2 separate regions of the Homo sapiens genome follow, and region 2 is linked to region 1. The links come from fine-mapping of genetic effects on gene expression. Tissue or cell type: whole blood. Region 1 holds a variant in brackets; the other region holds the start of a gene. All regions are shown on one strand. Distances are between the middles of the regions.

Region 1 (11,088 bases):
AAAGTGAAAGATGCCCCACTGCCCAGAAATGCAGATGACTGTGTATAACTGTTTAACATCTTTTAGTAACTGCATTTGGGGAAATTGCTATTTATGTCTTATAAACAACATAGCATTGAGTTCCCATGATAGGATTAAATTTAATTAATTCATTTATTAAACAAACTTTTTTTTTTTAAAGTGCTTCCAATACACTCAGAACTGTTTTAAGCACTGGGAGTTTGGCAGTAATTTTGACAAAGGTCCTCCTCCCCTCACTGAGCTCACATTCTAGTGAAGATCACAGACAATAATCAATGCAGTAATCTGATACCAGACAGTAATACATCATGAAAAGAAAAAGTAGGATAAGGGGAGAAGAGGGAAGCAAGGGAGGCCTCTGTGAGGAGGAACCATTAGTAAGAGATTTCACTGAAGGGAAGGAGTGACTCATGTCAAGATGTGGAAAGAGTGCTGCAGGCAGAGGAAACAGTACAAAGGCCCTGGAGTGGAAACAAAATTGAGGTGCTTCAAAGGCTAGGAAGGTCAGAATTACGGGATGAAGTGAGCTAGAGGAAAAGTTGTAGAAGGTGAGATTATTGAGGTAATGAGGGGTCAGATCACATAAGGCAATGGAGTTTTCAAAGAGCAGCACCTCCCAGCTGAGCATTTAGAAATATGAGTGTTTCTGTTGGTGCATTGCTTTGCGGCACTACTATCATGCGTGAGTGTCAAGAGCCATGAAGAGTCTGACTTTACTCTGCTTGCAAGCTAACAAGTTAGCCTGCTGCAGTTTCATGTATGCTGATGGATGACACAAGACTTCTGGGTAAGCGTTGAAAAATAGTTTGCTATTCACAGGAAGAGCAACAGCCAGGATATCAGTATTTATGCTAATTCCCTGTGCTGAGCCGAAGTTCCCAAAGGGCAATATTGAAAGGGCCAGGTGATATCCACAATGGGTTGCCCTACAGGAGAGGAACCCTGAGCCTTGGGAACCCAAATCTTTTCTAATGATCAGTAGACATGTCTTTTGTTCTGAAGGGAAATATTTCTTTATTCCAAGGCTGCTTGTATAAGCATACTTTAAATATCAGTCTGCAGCAAAGAACTGTTAATGCCTTGCTCATAAGACATTTGGAACCTTGACAAGAGACCCGTGGAGATTATTTCCCAACAGTGATCAGGGGCTAACTATTCTTCAAAGAGTGGTAGAGAATTATCTTGCCCAAAATCTCAGTAGTACCTTTTGTACATAACATGAGAATTCTTTACCTTCTGAGCTTGTTTAAAAAAATTCTTGCAGATGGATTGAATGTGATACACGAAAGAAAGAGTAGCAGAGTCATGGCAGAGAAGCCCTGCTATTTACTGAGAAGGCTAACTCTGCAGGAGGGGTGGGTTGAGGGGATGAGAAAGAAGAGCTCTATTTTGGACATGTTAAATGAGAAATACCAATTAGTTGTCTTGGTAGAGATTGAGATTAATATAGTTCAAGTTCCTGACATAATAGGTCCTATCTAAAATGTTAGTTTCCTTAGCTTCCCTTTTGTGGTATTTGACGTTTTTAACAACTCCCTCCTTCTAAAAATTCTGTTTCCTTAGCTTTGGCAACATCTTTCTGTCTTTATTCCGTAATCTTTGACACATTTTATAGTTCCTCTTCTTGGATACTTTCCTTGCACGTTGCCCTTTTCCAGTATTTTGTTTTTGAAACTCTTCTCAGGTTTAACATTTTGTTGCTTATCCTTTCAGTCTTTTACTTGAAAAAAAAAAGTATATGTATGTATATACACACACACACACACACACACACACACACACACATAAAATAATGAGCTCTTCATTGTAGAGTTGTAATATTCTTGTTTAATTAACTATATATTTAAAATTTTTTTCATGTAATTACTTAGTTTTCTGGAACACCATTAAACAAATTCCATAATATTCCATTATTTGAGTATATCAATTTATTCAGTTAATCCACTATTATGTTTTAACATGCTTTTTTATTTGAAATAATGTCAAAGTTACAGAATAATTGCTAGAATAGTACACAGAACTTGGTTTTCCCCAAGTCGTTTGATAGTAAATTGCCTACATGATGCCCCATCACCCTGAATATTTCAGTGTGTATTTCCAAAAATAAGGGCATTTGCCTGCGTGACCAGATAGAGCCTTCCAAACTAGAAAATTAACATTGAGGCTGTGCCACTGTTTCATCCACAGATCTCATTCAAGCTTCACTAGTTTTCTCAGTAAGTTCCGTCAGAGTAAAAGATCCAGTCCTCAAGCACAAGTTGCACTTATCTGTCCTGTCTCTGGAAGATTCTTCACTTTGGAACACTTCCTCAGTTTTTCCTTAATTTCGTGACTTTGACACATCTGAAATTAAAGACCAGTTATTTTGTAAATAGTTTCCCAACTTTGGTTTATATGATATTGAATCATGATTAGATACAGGTTTTTTCATGTTGGCTACAAATACCACAAAAGTGATGCTTTGTTTGTGCTTCTCACTGTGTCTTCTCAGATGGAACACAATTGCAATCTGTCTCATAATGGTGTGTTTGATTACTTAAGTGGTGTCTGCCAGGTTTCTTCACTCTAAAGTCACCATATTCCCTTTGTTATTAAAAAATGTTTGGGGTGAGGTTATTTGAGACTATAAGAATATTCTGTTACTTATTAAATTTTTACTTGCCAATTTTAGCATTTACTGATGTGTCTTGGCTGTTTTAATCATTACTATGATTGTTACCAAACGATGACTCTCTGATTTTCTTATTCCTTTTTACATTCATTGGTTGTCATTCTACTGTAAGGAAAAGCTTTTTATTCTTCAAAATTTTCAATCATTTTTATATCAAATGGTTATAATCATGACTATCATTATTTATTTTGATCCTTCAAAATTTCCCTGATTTGGCCAGTCGGGGAAAGAGCCCTTTCAAGTGGTGTCTGTGTTCATATGACCTCAAAAAAAATTTTTTTTTTTTGGAGACAGTGTGTCACTCCGTCACTCTGTCTCCCAAGCTGGAGTGCAGTGGTGTGATCACGGCTCATGAAGCCTCGACCTCCTGGGTTCAGGTGACTCTCCCTCCTCAGCCTCCTGAGTAGCAGGGACTACAGGTGTGTACCACCACTCCTGGCTAATATTTGTATTTTCATTTTTTTATTTTTTTTTGTAGAGTCAAGGTTTCACCATTTTAACCAGGCTGGTATCGAACTCCTGGGTGCAAGCAATGCTCATGCTTCAGCCTCCCAAAGTGCTGGGATTATAGTTGTGAGCCTCCGTGCCTGGCCTGGCCTCAAAATTCTTTTAAGAACTTTCTTACTTTCTGAATAGCAAGATGATCCAGACTTATCTTGTTCTTTCTTTGTACCCAGCTCTAGAACCAGCTATTTCTCCAAGAAACTCTGCTCTTTTTCCACAGAATAGTACTCTAGAAATCGACATCTAGGTACTATGTGCTTATTGTTATCAGGATGTCACTCTCCCAGCCCACTCAGTGAGCAGAGCTGGGAAAATATGTATGTATATACATATGTACACATATATACTTTTACATCTGTATTTATCTGTCGATTCATTCATCGATCCATGAGTTCACAACAATGCTTCCAATACCACAAAGTTCATTCTAGTGTTTTCCCTTCTCCCACAGTGAGAAAATATGGATCTTATCATCCTCAGTACACTTATGTGGTGATCAATTGAATATAAGCAATCTCCCATTGCTGTTTCTACTACTCAACCCTTACCCCGACACTCCAACCACCCAGTCATGCTTCAATGCTCAGTTCCAGGCCACTGCTGCTCCCACCCTCACTACAGATGTCCACCTAGCCCAACTTGGCTCTGAAACTGTGCAGTAGCTGCCACCTCCACCCCTTCAGGCAGAAGCCCTCCACACCCTGCCAGGCTTCAATGCCTCGCACACAGCTGCTGCTGCCACTGTCACTGCCAGTGTCCACACAGAGGCTCCCTGTGCCCTACTTGGGCTCCACCACCCTGTACTAAGGTGCTTGAAAGCCCTCCACACACACATCAATGCCTGCCTTGCTTCACCTGAACTGTGTTGGCTACTGACTTCATTTAAGGCTGGCAGGCAAGTAGGTAGTAGGATGGCAGGAAGGACAGTCCTTTGTTTTTGAACATTTAGATGGTACCCCAATGGGGGCTCTTATAAACAGCTTTTCTGTTACAGTTCATAGATTTTTAAAGATAAATGTGCTCTATAATTATTTACTTTCTTACATCTGGAGACCCTGAATAAAATTAATAGTCTCATTGCTTTCCCATGCAGCCTTTGGCTTACCTATCAAAACCTTAGAAGAATACTACACTTATAGTACATTGTTTGGGTGGAGGTAAGATGGGATTATTCCCTAGCTTGATTTTAGTAAATAATTCTATCAGGATCTTTTATACAACAATTTACTCCTAGTTATTTTGCCTCTACAGATTTTAACCTGCAACAGCCCAAAATAATTACTTTTTGCCATTCCTATAACACCTGAATTCAACTGAGTCAATTCAATTTATTTAATGTTAAAATAAATCACACCAATTATGAGATATCAAATTCACCAATATTGATTAATATTATTTAAGTGAACATTTGGTTAGTTTATCCTTACTTTTATATCATAAGATTTTAAAAGAAGTGTTTGCTTATTTCCTGCTTTAACTCTTTTTATTGTGGTAGAGATGGTTGTTCCTCTTTTTATTTGGTTGGGAAAATTCACCTTGGAAAAAAATATTCTGGAAATTACCATAGAAAGAACCTTGGTGTCAACCAAATCACTTCCCAATTTTTGTTAATTTTGTTTCTTACTAAGACATATGATGACATCACATTTGAACAAAATATTCTACCACGAATTGAATTTCTTGTGGAATTTATGAAATGATAAATTTCTTGATGTTAAGCTACTTGTCTTATGCAAATTTCTGTTCACACAATTCTCCA[C/A]CCTTATATTTCGTAGGTGTTAGCTAAGTGTGTGCTATTATTTTTACGTTTGAATTAATGACAACATGAGTTAAAAGAACTGGCTCATTCTTATTTCAGATTCATTTTGGGTAAATCAGGTGTAAATAAATCTACGCTCCTGACAGTCTGTTTTTTGGAACATGGATCTCAAGAGAGTGTGGGGGTGGGGAGGAGGATTATGTGATAAAATAAATAGTAAAAATGCTATTTCTAAGGTTCCCTCTTAAAAATTTACAAAGTATATTAGCATAATACAGACTCTGGGAAGCCCTGAAGTAAAAACATCCTTTTAGTTTTCTTAATCCAGTCTCCCAAACGTATTGACAGTAGATGTGTGCGTGTTTATGTGCTAATAACCCTGTAACAATCCAAACAGCTGGATTTCACATGACACACCTTGACAAACACAGACTTTTATAAGTGAAATGATGTCGTTTATTGTTTGCAAATTGCTAACTGGAGTTAGGAGCTACAGAATGATGCCAGTAGATCCAGTCTGAAAACAATCTCTCACAACACATGGAAGCTTTTCAAGTGCCTAGGTGAAAAATGATAGACAGTAATTTAAAGATCAAAAGCAAACATTCTTCATTTAAAAATAGGACATGAAAGGAAGGACAAACGTCCTGTTGTGACAGTTCTGGTCTTCACTCAGTGCTTTTCTTTTTCAGCTGGGCACCAAAGAAGGTTACCTCACCAAACAGGGAGGCCTGGTCAAGGTAAGGAAGTGTGGTTTTGCTCATGCCAGCCACAGAAAAAAGAGAACACGTCATGTAGACTCAATTCTCATCTTGATAGTTTTTCTTGGAAGCATAATTGCCTGCTCATTTTAACCCATTTGTAATATTCACCTGACTCAAGAGTTCATTTTTATGGCTCATTAGTCAAAATTCTGGAAAATGACTTGACTGTTCTTTGACAAAGCCCTGCATAGGTGTAGCCTGCAGTTAAAAGTCAATAAAACATAGTCCTCATAATGGAATGATTGAGGATGAAGATAGCAAGTTTACTCTAGAACATCTTTCGTTCTTCTTCTAAAACAAGGAAGAAGTCAAAATTGTATAAAATGTTTCTTTAAGGATAGGCCAAAAACATCACTGATGCTACTGAAACTATGTTATAAAATCCAAAGAAAAACACAATTTAAGCTCTTACAAGTTCAGAGTATCCAAATGTTCCCCATTTATGAGACTGTATCTTTAGAATTCCTTTGTTTCATCTCAATGTGCCAAGAAGACCTTCATGGAATGTGTCTGCTCCTTCTCGTTTTAAGAGTCACGGTATTTAACCTCTCACAGACACTGACATGCTTGGAATTAGCCTAAATAATTTCATTATTTGTGTCCCTTCTAGATCGAATGCTCCCTGAGGACAGAGAGTATTCATATTCATAGCATATTTATGTTTAAATCCTCTGTTACTTCTTTTAACTGGGCACATTGACACCCAGGATAGAGTAGGATGCTGTTTGTATATAAGAAGGTAACAGCGGGCAATGATGGTTTTTACCACTGATACCTTGGAGTTCTTAGGCAAGGTTTAGAATATCATGTGAGTCAGGGTTCCTAAACCTCAGTTTTGTTGTTTGTAAGACAAGAATAATAATACTGGCATTGTTGTGTGAGGATTGGATATAATATATAAAGCCTCCAATGATAGTATATCGTCCATATTAGGTACTCAAAGAACAATATTTATCTTTATTATAGAGTTAATAAAATGGAAATTGTAGTGGTTTGTTATAAGTCACATTGAATATTTATGATAGACTAATTCTTTTTGTATTTAAAAATATACTAATGATATATCTGCCTTCATTATGAGCTTAATGCATGAAATTAATTTTTATAGATATTTTGAAACTTTTTTCTCAGAAATGACACAAAAGAATTTTTTGAGCTTAATGCATGAAATTATTTTAATTTTTATAGATATTTTGAAACTTTTTTCTCAGAAATGACACAAAAGAATTTTTTCAGGGTTATAGTATTTAATTTTTTAGATACTTTTAAAATGAAAGTAAATCATCTGGTTCAAATATTACATTCCTGTATTCAAAACTTTGTGTGTCTGTGTGTTTGTGTGTGTGTGTGTTTTTCTCAGACCTGGAAAACAAGATGGTTTACTCTGCACAGGAATGAACTGAAATACTTCAAAGACCAGATGGTGAGAAACATGATAATATATTTTTCCTTTAAAAATCAATTCTCTAGATGAAAGAAACTTAGGTCTTTAAAATCTCTGAAATTATTTTTATATCCACCTGAAATACCTAATAAATGATTGGAGATATGAATTCTTGATTCCTGAAATGAGCAGAGTTATTTTGCAAAGATGAGATGTATGTCCCAGAAATTGCTTTCTTGGATTGGCTAAACCATAGTTCCCCAGGGCACGTAATTCCCTCTGTTTAGGACAATGTAATTATTCTCTTGCCACAATTTATTAACTGTCTCTTTGCAGCAATTTGTCCCTTTATTAAAAATACAGTTTCTCCATTTCCCATGCCCATTTCATTAAGCCAATTTAAAATTATTTTTTCTCACTTTTCTTATATAACATTTCTAAGAAAGTAGAAGTTTTAAAAAATGAGAGAAAAATATACCTCTCTTCCATGTGTTAAAATCCATCTTCATCAGTAAGTTGATAAAGGTAGTAACTTAATGCCCAGTTTTATGAAAGGCTCATTCCAAAACCAAGGACTTCCCTTGGTAGGGCTTTTCTATTGTCAGTCCTGTTAGTGAAAGGAAATATGACAATTGCACATAGTGGAAAACTTGTGAGGGGAATAAGTGAGGGACAGATTTGTCTGTTTTTTTTTTTTTTTTTAATGGTGACATACGTTGCTTTTTATTTTATTTAGTCACCAGAACCAATTCGGATCCTAGACCTAACAGAATGTTCAGCTGTACAATTCGATTATTCACAAGAAAGGGTAAACTGTTTTTGGTAAGTTGTTTTATAAAGAAAACGTTTTTTAATGTCTTCTTGCCAGACACTTATTTTGGCTAAGGAATAGAAAGCTGTATATCTTAATGTCTACAAAGATCAGATATGAGGGGCATGCCTGCATGTAAGGAGTGTTTTCAGCTGAGTGTGACATAACACCTCATTTAAAGTAGCTTAAACAAACAGGCAGGTCAGCTCAGCTTATGTTGCGTACTGGAGAAGTATGACTCACATAGAGGATGCCATTCACATCTTAGACAATTTAATTTCTTTGAGGCTTTCTCCCTCATTTTATTTATAACTTTGTTGACTCTAATGATAGGTGATTTGTATTGTTATGACAATTTCTGGCAAATGGCACAAAAATATTTTGTTCTAACATAATCAGTATGTTATAAAAATGTTCTAACTGGGAGAAGAGTCTTGAGAAAGGAATGTCTTATTTCCCACTACCTTTTATTTTAAAGTTTTTCAAGCATACACAAGTTGAAAGACATACGTTTACATACCCTCCATAGCAGTTATTAATATATCTTACCATATTTGCTTTATCCTAGTCTATCCACTTTTTTTTTTTCCTGAACCAATTGAAAGTAAGTTGCAGACATCATGGCACTTTATTCCTAAAGACTTTAGTATGTGTCTCTTAAGAATAAAATATCACATATAGGACTACAGTATCATTATTACAACTGAAGAAATTAATGTTAATTCTATAATATCAACTGAGAATGGGTGTCTTTTTAAAATTTGCATAGACATGCCCTGTGAGCTAGCAGAGCTTTATTTTTCTCATATATCCAAAAATCAGGAGGCAAGCAGCTATGGTGACAAGGTCAGGTCCAGGGTCTCTACTGTTCTCCTGGCCTTTTCTCATGCTGGCTACTTCAGGATTTGAGTGTCTACTACACCTGTAGGTCTCATATTTTCAACAAAGTACAAAGAAAGATGTAGGGATGATATTACCCGTGTCTGTCCCTTTTTATCAGGAAAACCAATGTTTCTCCAGAAACTCCCCTATGAGACCGGGTGCCATGGCCATCCCCAGCAGCTGATCATAATTGGCTTAAACAAATTAGGATTTATTGCTTGGGGTTCTGTTAGCAAAAGAAAGGGATAATTATCTGTATTAATAGACAGTTAATAATGTCTCCCATAGGGAGTACCAAACAATGACAATGACAGAAACCAGTTTTCGAGTATATGCACTGTATCACTCCCTCCCCACCACTGTCCACTCACTCTCCACTAGACCTCACATCCAGGTATTAGCTTCTATGCACAGAGACTTACCTCTTACCTATTCAACTTTAATTGCTGGTATCAACAAAATACACTGCTTAGGCTTTAAGATATAGAAACCCTTCTGAAGGCTTTTTCACAAAAAGAAAAAAGATTTTTGGTATTTTTGCATCTCAACTGTAAGTAAGGAAGTATGTTCAGTATGTAATTTAGGGCTGACCTTATTGCTTACATAATTTTAACTAGGTAATCAGACACAGTCAAATGAAAAATTACTATACATTTAGGAAAAGTATTTTGTGCCAGTAGGAAAGTTCTTATTCCCTGCAGCAGAGACTGACTCTTGGCCAGAGATGGGAGAAATAACTAATTTAGTTTTATTGTCTCTTTTTATTGTCCCAATAGTTGAAATTGCCCACAACCACAGAAGGCAGAGTTATCCTCGTTGAAGCAAGCTAACACAAATGAGTTCTTTTTAGCAAACTTCTCTGTCTTGCCTATTCTTTGGATCATAGCACAAGTTTTTGAGAGATCAGCTGAATGAATACATAAGTGTTAGAGTTAACCTAAGACATGAACCACAAAAGGATCTAGGGGTGTCCTGAACATGTTTCTTTCTTCTTCAAAGTCTTATTCGAGTATATACATCTGACTTGGAATAATAATATGAATCTACAACTTCCTTAACATTTCTGCAGTTTGCTGGCAGGAGTAGGTGCATATATACCAGCACTTCAAGGTACTTACCTGCATCCTTTATCAATTCTTTTTTCCCTTGCAATACTCTAATTAGTGTTCAACTAATATATATATATATATATATATATAATATATATAATATATTATATTATATATTATATTATATATATTATATATATATATATATATATAGCTAATGATCTGCAATATCTTATGTTCTTTCTTTTGTCCTATTAGTTTGGTATTTCCATTCAGGACATTTTATCTCTGTGCAAAGACCGGAGTAGAAGCTGATGAGTGGATCAAGATATTACGCTGGAAATTGGTGAGAATTTTTAAGCCTTCAGATGTCAAGTCTTGAGAAATAACATGTTGATGATTTCAAACATATTTCTATCAAAAGAGTCAGACTAGACCCAAGAATCAAAGAGATGTCTGGGTGTCTACTTCCAGGCTTGCGGAACAGTCTGTTAATTCTTCTGGGACATGAGAAGAGATGGAGACAGGATTGTAAAAAAGAAAGAATTAAGCCATATTTGGGTCTTAGACATAGAGCCTTAGCCTAATAACCACCTATCAGACTTCCTATAAGGTGTGTCAGTTAGTTCAGTTTTGTCTGGAGGGGGACATTTAGAACCAGAAGGTCTGACAGAGGAAAGCTGACATACTTCTCTAGTTGAAAAGCCTTTTAAATTGTTAGAGAAGAAAGTTTGCCAGAGGCACTTAGCTTAGTTTCCAATGTAAGCATCACTTTGTGCAGGTCAAGGACAAAAGCTGATTTATTTTGTCTGCTCTCTGTATATCTCCCGAGGAGAAGACTGAGTGAGTACTTATAAAACTTCACCAATCTTCTACTTGTTTTTCATGTGCTTGCAAGTTAGTGAGTTCTTAGCCAAGAACTTGTCCTTAAAGCTGACTAAAATTTCCTATAAATACCATCTTAAAAACTTTGATGATTTCTTTTTTTCTATTTTTTTTTTTTTTTTTTTTTGAGACAGAGTCTCGTTCTGTTGCCCAGGCTGGAGTGCAGTGGTGTGATCTTGGCTCAGTGCAACTTCTGCCTCTTGAGTTCAAGTGACTTTCATGTCTCAGCCTCCCGAATAGCTGGGATTATAGGAGCTTGCCACCACGCCTGGTTAATTTTTGTATTTTTAGTAGAGAAGGGGTTTCACCATTTTGGCCAGGGTGGTCTCGAACTTCTCACCTCAAGTGATCCACCAGC
Region 2 (11,088 bases), 46 kb before region 1:
GTGGTGCATGCTTGTAGTCCCAGCTATTCAGGAGGCTGAGGTGGGAGGATGGCTTGAGCTGAGGAGGCAGACATTGCAGTGAGGTGAGATCATGCCACTGCACTCCAGCCTGGGTGACAGAGCCAGACACTCTCTAAAAAAAAAAAAAAAAAAAAAAAAAAGAAAGAAAGGGAATAAAGAAACAATGATAATGATAAAACCAATGAGAAGTCATTCTGCTCTTTATTATCACCAGAAACCAGCAATTCTAACCAATGTCAATGACAGAATATACCTCTCAGCAGAGGCAAACCATTCCTCACTCCCTACCAAAAACTGAACATTTGTGTCCCACAAAATTCCTATGTAAAAGCCTAATCCCCAATGTGATGGTATTTGGAGGTGGAGCCTTTGGGAGGTGATTAAGTCATAAGGTCATAATTCTCATTAATGGGATTCATGTCTTATAAAAGAGGTCCCAGGGAACTTCCCAGCCCCTCCCACCATGTGAAGACACAGCAAGAAGACAGCCAGCATCTATGAACCATGAATCAGGCATTATCAGACCCCACATCTGCTGGTGCCTTGATCTTGGACTTCCTAGACTCCAGAAATGTGAGAAATAAATTTCTGTTTTGTGTAAGCTACCCAGTCTGTGGGATGGGGTGGGGAGAGTGACCCAGGACCCCTAGTGATGAAGGTGGGGAGAGTGACCCAGGACCCCTAGAAATGGGGTAAGGGAAGAGTAACCCAGGACCCCTAGGGATGGGGTGGGGAGAGTGACCCAGGACCCTAGGGATGGGGTGGGGAGAGTGACTCAGTACCCCTAGAAATGGGATGAGGTGACAGTGACCCAGGACCCCTAGGGATGGGGTGGGGAGAGTGACCCGGGACCCTTAGGGATGGGGTGGGGAGAGTGACCCACGTTATTCACAGTCATATGAATAAGAAATTCACTTCTGTGTTGAAGTGTTAAATTTTGGGTCTTTCTGAAGTAGCAATTTAGCATACCCTGATGAACACAGGAGAGAATGAGGCAGAGTGAAAAGAACCTTGAGTGAAAATGTTATGTGCTAGTTATTCATCAATTGGCTTCAGCTCCACTTCTGACCTCCTCTCCTCGCCTGGTATCATAGGGGACTGGAAGCCCACAAACTACATTTCACTAATTCCCTTGCCAGCTGTCTTCCAGAAAGAATTTGCTAACAGGAAGACTGGAGAAGGGTAGAAATCTGGGGTTTTTTTGTTTTTGTTTTTGTTTTTTTCTTCCTTAGGCAGTGCTTTCAGCACCATGAGCAGCCTTCAGCAATGGTGGGCAGCTGCATGCTCCAAAAGCCTCAGTCCCAGTTTTCAGCTGCATCAACAGAGTTGTGTCCTTCTGGTCCCACAGACCAGCAGTGGCAGCTAAATGTCTACAGTGGCTTCTCTTTTCTTAACTGGATAGTGACTGATGCACATAAATTCTCTTCCTGGTGCTGCTAATTTCTGACAATTTTCTTAACATTTCTGAGCTCCAATTTTCTTATCTATTAAAAAATAACAAGAATAGCAATACCTGCTCTGTGTCAATAACATAATGTTCATGATATACAAATGAAAATGATTATGAACACTCATAATCTAAAGAAATGTATTTTTATGGATCCTGGTTAAGTTTGCTGTTATTGGTCATGTCTTTCTCTTTCTAGACCTCCAGGAGCCTATTGAATGTTTCTAAATTGTGATCCAGTCAAATATGTTAGTTATTTTTTCATTTGAAAAGATGAATATAGCCTGCACCAACAGGGGGAGCTGTTCTTTTATAACCACTGAGAGTGGCTGTATTTCTTCTTTGAGGGCAAAGCTTTAATTGTTTCAACACCAGCTACTGGGAAATGTCACCAGTGAACCAATTAGCCTGGCTTCCTGAACCATGTAGAACTGATTATCCAAGTCAGGCCGGCAATGGGCTTGGGCACAGGGTATATGGTAGACACAAATGAAGAGTGACCTCAATGTCCCATTAATGTTACTTGACTTGTGCTCACTTGACCTCAGGTTGCTTGTAAAAAAGGTAGGGTCTTAGCCCTTTCTCCCTGAAATCCTCCCCAGTGATTTCTGGGAAGGGCTGGCTTTTTATTTCACTTTAGCTTTCTCGTTAGGTAGGTGACTTTGCATAGTTACCTTCAGTGGATTTACTGTATTATGGTTTTTAGGTTGCTCTTAAAGTGAGAAAAAAATGTGCTTGAGGTAGACCAGGTAGCCCTTTTGATACTTTTAGCCAGGTAATTCTTTATTGTGGGGGCTGTACTGCACACTAGGATATTCAGCATCACTGCACACTAAATGCCAGTAGGCTCCCCAGGTTGTGACAACTAACAATGAAAACCACCTCAAAAATGAGGACCCAATTGAGAACCACCATTTTAGGGGCTATGGATACTATATCAGTGAAGGTTCTCCAGAGAAACAAAACCAATAGTATGTATATATGTGGAGTGTGAGAGTGTGTGTGTGTGAGAGAGAGAGAGGGTGTGTGTGTGTGTGTGTGTGTGTGTGTGTGTGTGTGTGTGTGCGTTGTATAAAATAAGGAATTTCCTCACATAATTATGTAGGCTGGTAAGTCCAAGATCTGCAGGGTGGGCTCACAGGCTGGAGAACTAGTTCAAGTCCAAAGGCTGTCTACTATAGTACCAGGAAGAGTTGATGCTGCAAATGAAGACCAAATGCAGTCTACTGGAAAATTATGTTGCTCGGGGGAGGCTGGTCTTTTGGTTCTGTTCAAATTTTCAACTGGTTGGATGAGGTCCACCCACGTTATAGAGAGCAATCTGCTTTACTCAGAGCCTACCATTTAAATGTTAATTCACTCAAAAACACTCTTATAGAAACACCCCGAATAACATCTGACCAACTATCTGGGCAACCCGTGGTCTGGCCGAGTTGACACGTAAAAGTAACCATCAAAGATATAAGGTGATCAAGACCCTGGAAGTCCCTGCCTCTGGGAGCTCACATTCTAGGCATTGACCCAGATGATAGGCAAGTGTTTCAGTTATCTATCGCTGGCTGTATTAGTCCATTTTCATGCTGCTGATAAAGACATACCCAAGACTGGGCAATTTACAAAAGAAAGAGGTTTATTGGAATTACAGTTCCATATGGCTGGGGAGGCCTCACAATCATGGCAGAAGGCATGGAGGAGCAAGTCATCTTATGTGGATGGCAGCAGGCAAAGAGAGCGCTTGTTCAGGGAAACTCCCATTTTTAAAACCATCAGATCTCATGAGACCTATTCACTATCATGAGAACAGCAGGGGAAAGACCCACCCCATGATTCAGTTATTTCACACTGGGTCCTTCCCACAACATGTGGGAATTATGGGAGCTACAAGATGAGATTTGGGTGGGGACAAGGAGCCAAACCATATCACTGCCTAACAAACCATCCCAAGCTTCATGGCATCAAATAGCAAACATCTTATTAAGTGCATGTATTCTTTAGATCCAAAATTCAAACAGGGCATGGTTTGTCTCTCCTCTTTGATGTCTGGGGCCTCAGCTGGCAATATGCAAACCACTAGGAGAGAGTGATTTGAATGGCTGGAGGCTGGAATCATCTGGGGGCTTCTTCAATCAAGTCTGGCACCTGGACTAGAATGATTCAAGCTGGGATTATCTGGGACTGTTGACTGGAGCACACACATGAAGCATTCCACGTGGCTTGGGCTTCTAGGCATAACAATTATGTTCCTAAGGGGAACCCCTGAAAGTAACATTTGGAGAGTGAGCCTTCCAAGAGACCACAATAGAAACTGCAAGGCTTCTTCTGACCTAGCCTCAGAAGTGATCCAGTGTCACTTCCACCACATTTTATTGGTCACAAGTGAATCACAGAGGCCAGGCCAGATTCAAAGGAGGGGAGTTAGGTGCTGCCTCTTGACAGGGAGCAGCAAGGTCACATTGCAGAAGAGCATGTGGGTTGGGAGATGTATGTGTGTATGTATGTATGTATGTATGTATGTATCTATCTATCTATCTATCTATCTATCTATTTATCTATCATCTATCTACTATCTATCCATCAAGAGAATTTGCCACAAGTAAGCAAATATTCTATATAATTTCAGGTAGAGCTAAAAACAGAAGTGGTATTTAGACTGTTACAGATACAAAGGATCTTCTGGGGTGATAAAAACCATTCTAAAATTGTATTGCAATGATGGTTGCACGACTCTGCAAATTTACTCAAAATTATTGTACACCTAAGGAAAATGAACATTATGATATACAAATTGTACCTCAATATACCTGTTAAATATACAACTAGCATGCCACAGGCACTGAAGGATAAGAACAGACATGATGCTGGCCTTGGTTCCAAAACAAGGTTTTTTGTTTTTTGTTTTTTGTTTTTTTTGAGACGAAGTCTCACTCTGCTGCCCAGGCTGGAATGTAGTGGCATGATCTCAGCTCACTGCAAGCTCTGCCTTCCGGGTTCACGCCATTCTCCTGTCTCAGCTTCCTGAGTGGCTGGGATTACAGGCGTCCACCACCATGCCCGGCTAATTTTTTGAATTTTTAGTAGAGACAGGGTTTCACTGTATTAGCCAGGATGGTCTCGATCTCCTGACCTGGTGATCCACCCGCCTCGGCCTCCCAAAGTGCTGGGGTTATAGGCATGAGCCACCACGCCCGGCCCAGAACAAGATTCTAAATCCCCTTTCAGTTACACAGCAATAGATGTCCCGGGAGGGATGGGCTCCAGCATTTTGTTGAAACTATCTAGCAAGCCTCCTGCAGCTGTTACCACTGCAAAACTAAGTGTGTAGTTAGTGGAGTGGGCGGGGTGGTAGGGATACTGTGAAAAATTGAGTAAATGACAAAGTGGGACAATGACATCAAAGGAGAGGGCAACAGACAGGACAGCAACATGAGGAAGGGCAAAAGGCAGGAAGATTCAGCCAGAAAAGCAGGACGATCTTAGAAAATTCTGCTACTTGTACTTCCAAAAAAGTTAAGAAAAAGAACAACCAGAATTTGCTAAAAATGGGAATGAAATAGATACTAAAACACCAAATAAAGGGCTCTAGAGAGGGAACAGGAACTCTAGTGCCCAGGCTGTTCCCCTGTCACTGCTGTATGCATATTCAGTATCTCCCTGGCCTGCACTGGCCTCTCTGTTCAAGTGGGCCCTGTCCTTCTCTGTGAGCAAACTGTAGCCAAAAGAATTTAAGTGCTCATTTAGTCAGTTATATATGTATTATCAGAGCTTAGTCTTCAGCAGACTGCCTCCAGACACTCAGGAACTTCCCACTGGCAACCAGTGTTACCCGGGTCTCACCGATCCCGGGTGAACAGTGGTAATAGGGAGGAAGATGAAGGATAGAACCATTGCACAGCAGCCTTTTGCAATCATCTAGTCCTTTAGGAACAGTTCTGCTGTGCTGTTTAGTCCTCAGGCCACACTGTGAGAACAAGTTACAGAGCACTGTGGTGAGTGCTGAATGAGTCAGGGAGTAGAGATAGGAAGAGAGAGAGAGAAAGGGAGAGGGAGAGAGAGACCTGTAGGTACATAGAAAAGGCAGGAAGCAACATATGTCCTTGACTCATTTGATACTGCACTTTGTTCCACTTCCCAAGGATTCAGTCACTGCAATTTACCTTTAGCATTCCAGGCAGATAGAATCCTGCTCTACATATGAATCTGGGCACAAAGCCATGCAGGTGTGAGTAAGCCCATGAAGGAAGTGGCACTCAAAGACTCTAGGAGTTCAGGCCAGGTGCAGTGGCTCATGCCTATAAGCCCAGCACTTTGGGAGGCCGAGGTGAGTGTATCACCTGAGGGTGAAACCCTGTCTCTATAAAAACACAAAAATTAGCAGAGCATGATGACGGGTGCCTGTAATACCAGCTACTTGGGAGGCTGAGGCAGAAGAATCACTTGAACCCTGGGAGGTGGAGGTTGCAGTGATCTCAGGTCATGCCATTACACTCCAGACTGAGTGACAGAGCGAGACTGTCTCAAAAAAAAAAAAAAAAAAAGACTCCAGGAGTTCTAATATGCCCCATTAGGTGGGCACCAGAATGGCCCCTTGTAACTTTTTCCTACCTTCTCCTCTCCTAATTCTTTTTCTGTGGAGGAAACAATAATTGTCTCTGAATCATCCCTATTCGGAGCATTGAGGATATATTAGAAGGTCTGGGTAAACAAGCAGAAATATTGCAAAAGTGCTAAAACATCAAACTTCAGGGTCGAATTTGTGGTTTGCTTCTGCTTTTTCTATCCACTCTAAAGGTGTTCCTGATAGAGAAGCTTCCTCAGTGTTCCCTGTGTTGGTGTGTAAGACAGAAAGAAGATGGGGTAAAAGAGTGCACGCATCCTCCACTACAAACCAGAGGCTGATAGCATTAGGGAGAAGCTAGGGTTTGGCCTCACACAAGCAGTTTGCACTGTTGTCCAATCCCAGGTGGGGTGGTTGCCTCTTCATTTCCTTTGATAGCAACCGCCTGTTGCGTGATGTAGTGTGGGTGTCCTCAGAGGTAGCTACCTAAGTTTGCATACTTCCTGACTGACAGAACACTCCTGCCAGTGCCTCCAGGCCAGGGTGGTGGTGTTGGTGGGAGGAGTAAGTAACCAAGTTTCACTTCCTTGCCTTGGAGACTCAGAGCCATAGCAGGCTGCTGTCTCACAGAGCGAGAAGGTGTCAGGAGCAGCCCAGTTGTGTCTCTCTCTCTACCTCTGTGAAGGGCGCGAATGGGCAGAGCAGAACTTCTAGAAGGGAAGATGAGCACCCAGGATCCCTCAGATCTGTGGAGCAGATCCGATGGAGAGGCTGAGCTGCTCCAGGACTTGGGGTAAGGCAGCAGATCTCCTTTCAAAGTACCTAGTGGGTGGACATTGACTCCGCACTCCCACCTGCATGCTTTGATTAATGACTATCTTCAGTGCCTTGTTGCCCTCTGCCACCTCAACCATTTATTTTTTTCCACTTTATTCATTTGTATCTGTTAAGTATCTTCTTGTCTGGGGCTAATTCCATTGGAAAAGCAGGCATTATTTTTCTAGATGTGAAAACAAGTTGGTTGAGAAAATAGGGAAAAAAATCAAATGTTGGACATTCTTTGAGAAGAGGGACAGAATTGGGATATAGAGGTGATGTTGCCTGGCTTCCTTGATGTTGCTCTGGTTTATGAATAAATGCGCTGTTCAAGAGTTTCTAGCACTGACCCAGGGACAGTAAAAGGACTGTGTTTCTGGTAAGATAAACAGAAAGCTTACCCTACTGTAAGGGAGAGGGACTTTTTCAAAAGACAGAGAATGAGGAAGTTCCTGCAACAGTCTCGCTTGTATATTTCTTTCTCCTGATACTGCATTTGTGAGATTTGATATCGTATGTATGTCCAGAGAGCCAACTTTGAGCCTTTCAGTACCAACAATCCAGGAAGAGGATAAAATTTCTGCTTCAAACAGGTAAGCATAGGTAGGTGGAGTCATTGGAGCTCTGTCTTTAAGAAGGGACCCAGATGACAACTCATCCGGGTATTTAATAAGAAACAAGTATTACACAAGAGAGGAATTGGGGATTTCCCAGAGAAACTGCCTAATGCACTGGGAATATCCCAATGAAGGTGGCTTTGACACCTGTGCATGAGGAGAGGCAAAACCTTTACCTTCTGCCTGGACAAATAGCTCTAACTCTTCATAGCAATCCAATGACATAGGAGCTGTTGTCATCTTCATCTTACAAAGGATGAAAACAAGTACCAAACAGGTTTGAATAACTTGCTTGCTAGTCACACATCAATTACATAGCAAAGCTGGGCATCCAACCTACCACAGGCTATGTCCGAAACCAAAGAAAAACCAAAATAGAGTTGAAATCTCTCTGTGTTAAGGCTGCAGAGATTGTATCTTTTTATGTTGTATTACTGTAAAAGTTTATTAATAATTCCTGTCTTTAGATTATAAAACTGAGGTCTCGGAATTGAACTCTACTTTCATTTGGCAAATCAGATAAAACACCTGGAATTTTCATTAAAGAAAACTCCCCTTATTAGGAAGCCAGAGCTCTAGAATCTCTCTATCCCTCTAGATTGAATCCCCAAACAGAAGAGGTAAAAGGCCCTTCTGTGAGCATCCAGCACAGGTGTCACCAAGTCCAAAAGCTAAAGCTGAACTGTGGCCCTCAGTGTCTTATTGAACTATTAAGTTACAATGCTTTACATGTTCTGTTAACTGTATTCCCAGCCCACTGTAATAGAAAACCCCAAAGGAGGAGATAGAGGAATATATTCAATTCTGGTCCTTTAGTTAAACAAACAATCCTAGAACCCAGAGTCTATGGTTGAGTACTGTGGGAACACACTTAGATGACAAAGATGAATTAGATGCTGTCTCTGTGCCCCACCATGATGTCAACAGCAAGAAGCAACTACAGGTGAAACCCACGGGTGGAATAGGACTGTGTCTTTCCTCCATGTGCAAAGAATAGACATTGAATACAAAACTGAGTCACACCACTTCCCTGCAAAAAAAAAAGGGTACATTCATGGCCAGATTTCCCTATTTCAGAAGGCGTGAACAATTAATAAACATGAGGATGATTTCTATAGCAATGGGCAACCTGCAGTTATCTGGGAAAACTGCTCTACAGTCCTGGTTCTTGACCTTGGCTGTGCTCTGGAACATCTTGACACCCAAACCACAGACTTGACAAATGATTTCAGTATCTCTGGGGATGGGTGTTTTCTTGTCAAACTCTCCAAGTAATTCCAAAGTGAGACCCTAGGTTGATGATCACTGCATAGAATATGTATCTACCAAATGCATTAGGTAAATGTGGTCTTGTTTTTCATTTTAAGTCTGTTGGGTGTGTACTTGAATCTTAAAATTACTAATAAATGTTGATATTTTGTTTGTTGGTTTAGGGGCATTTCGATTAGCAACTTTATTGAGGTTATTTTACATATCATAAAATATACCCGTTTCAAGTGTACAATTCAATACTTTTGACTAACTTTACAGAGTGATACAACCATCACCATAAATCAGTTTTAGGACATTTCTGTTCTCCCAAAAAGAACCCTCAGATGTATGGCTTATTTAAGCATACTCAACAGTGTGCTGGAAAAACAGCTGGGAAGAGTTGGGGTGTGGAGAAAGCCCTGATTTCAAGAATTTGCCTAATTCCCTGGTATAAATACTCCCACTATAGACAATTTCAAGCTGCCAACAATTTAACATCATCGAATTGAATATTTAATAATCAACTTGTGCCAGTACTTGCTCCTGCAGCACCTCACTGATACATTTTTTATAGATAACAATTTGAGAACTCTTGACAATGACTTGTTGCCTCTGCCAGAATACTGAACATAACTCGAACATTATAATGACTTTTTCTTTGAACCTTTAACCACTGGCGAGATAGAATCTCTACCAAACCTTCTGATTAATTTAGTTTCCAAAGACCTCCTTAAAAACAAAATGATTTAATGTAATGGATAGATAAAAGGTAGCTGGTTTTAATGACTTAATTTTTCAATTATTTTTAAGAGGTTATTTGAGTAGTTAGATAAATCCTTACGTTTATGTTTTTGATAGACATAAACAGATAAGTTAGTGGTTAAATTACAGAAATAGCAGAAGTCTTTGTTCTTGGGCCTCTGTTTTTTTCAGGCTCTGGAATATGTAAATCCTGTAAATTGAGCCCTGAACTGCAGCAAATCCATCACTTGCCTTTCCAGGACATATACAACTTGCTCAGAGTACAGGTTTATTATTTTCTAAAATACCTAAATCAAGCAACACAGTGCTTTTCCATGTCTCATTTATAGAGTGTCAGCCTAAAATCATTAATTTTCTTTCATCTAAAATACATTAATGTGTCCAGAAGCAAAGGAGAAATAAAACCATCTTAAATTGTTGCTCAGCTTCGCTTACACTTCTCAGGGGAGGGTATGGGCTTAGGGGGAAGAGAGGTGTGGGGAGGGCAAGAAGTGAGGGTGTGGAGAATCAGGGGAGAGGAAGGAGGTGGACCATGAACGAGGAGATGGGTCAGGCTGTTTGCTGCTTGCAAAATGAAAATATGGCAAAATAAAACAAGTAACAAATACTGGAGATATCACCTAAGTAACAAACTGGTAAAGAATAGCTAGTTAAATTACTGAAAATTCCAGCAATTCTTTGGCTTTAACAAAGGTTACTATACTATTTCTACATATAGCTATATATATGTATAAACACAAAAGAAATAACAAAATGAAAGTGTTTTAGCATACTTTAAAATTAAATATTCAAATGATCTAGTCAGTTGTAACTCCAAGTGAGAAACATAATAAACGTTCTCTTTTTTAAATACTTTCTCAAATCGAAAGTTGTATAAGAAAGTGCCAGTGTTTGGCTGGATTGGCCAGTGCCAAAGAACTAGATTCCAAGCTCTGAATATTTAAATAAATTGATAACTAATTAGTCACATATAAGAGAAGTTTAGAGTAGACCATGGAGCAGCAAACCTTTTTTTTATAAAGGGCCGGGTAACGAATGTTTTAGGCTTTGCAGGCCTTACAGTCTCTACCTCAACTACTCACATCTGCTGTTGTGCAAAAACTACCAGAGAACACAGAAACAAATGACCGTGATGGTGTTCAAACAAAACGTTATTTATACACTGAAATGTGAATTTCATATAATTTTTATGAATATTTTTCTATTTCCCTCAAGCATTTCAAAATGTACAGCCATTCTTGGCTCCCAGTCCATACTAAAACAGGTGTCTGACAGGAATTAACCCTCAGCTGGTGGTTTGCTGACCCACGGAATAAATGATAATAAACAAAATGAGTCCGTATTATAAGGCAGGCATTTTGTAGACACCAGCTCTGGTCTTTGAAAGGCACTGGTATTCCAGCTTTACACAGGAAGAGACTCAAGAGCAGAAAAATCAGGTTGCCTACAGTCTCTGAGTGTCTGTGTTCAAAACCCATGCTGACTTCACAAACCAGGTTGTTTCCCTGCTGTGATAGTCCTAATTTACTGACCACCTACTATGCATCAGCACCATACCATTCACACGCATAATGCCATTTAGGCTTCACAATAACACTTTCAATACGATATCACCATAC

What was found. PIP is the estimated chance that this variant, and not a neighbour inherited with it, causes the effect.
Region 2: it holds the start of DAPP1, and the variant in region 1 is fine-mapped to the expression of DAPP1 in whole blood (TOPMed, PIP 0.98).

The regions. Positions count from the first base shown.
Region 1 is chr4:99,855,931-99,867,018 of GRCh38, forward strand. DAPP1 (dual adaptor of phosphotyrosine and 3-phosphoinositides 1) reads left to right here. Exons shown (of 9, transcript NM_014395.3): 5 at 5,648-5,695; 6 at 7,080-7,142; 7 at 7,840-7,925; 8 at 10,104-10,191. Among named protein-coding and RNA genes, the nearest start is that of LAMTOR3, 33 kb to the right of the region's middle. The variant C/A (reference allele first, on the strand shown) is at 4,956.
Region 2 is chr4:99,810,199-99,821,286 of GRCh38, forward strand. DAPP1 (dual adaptor of phosphotyrosine and 3-phosphoinositides 1) reads left to right here and starts at 6,629. Exons shown (of 9, transcript NM_014395.3): 1 at 6,629-6,816. The coding sequence starts at 6,716.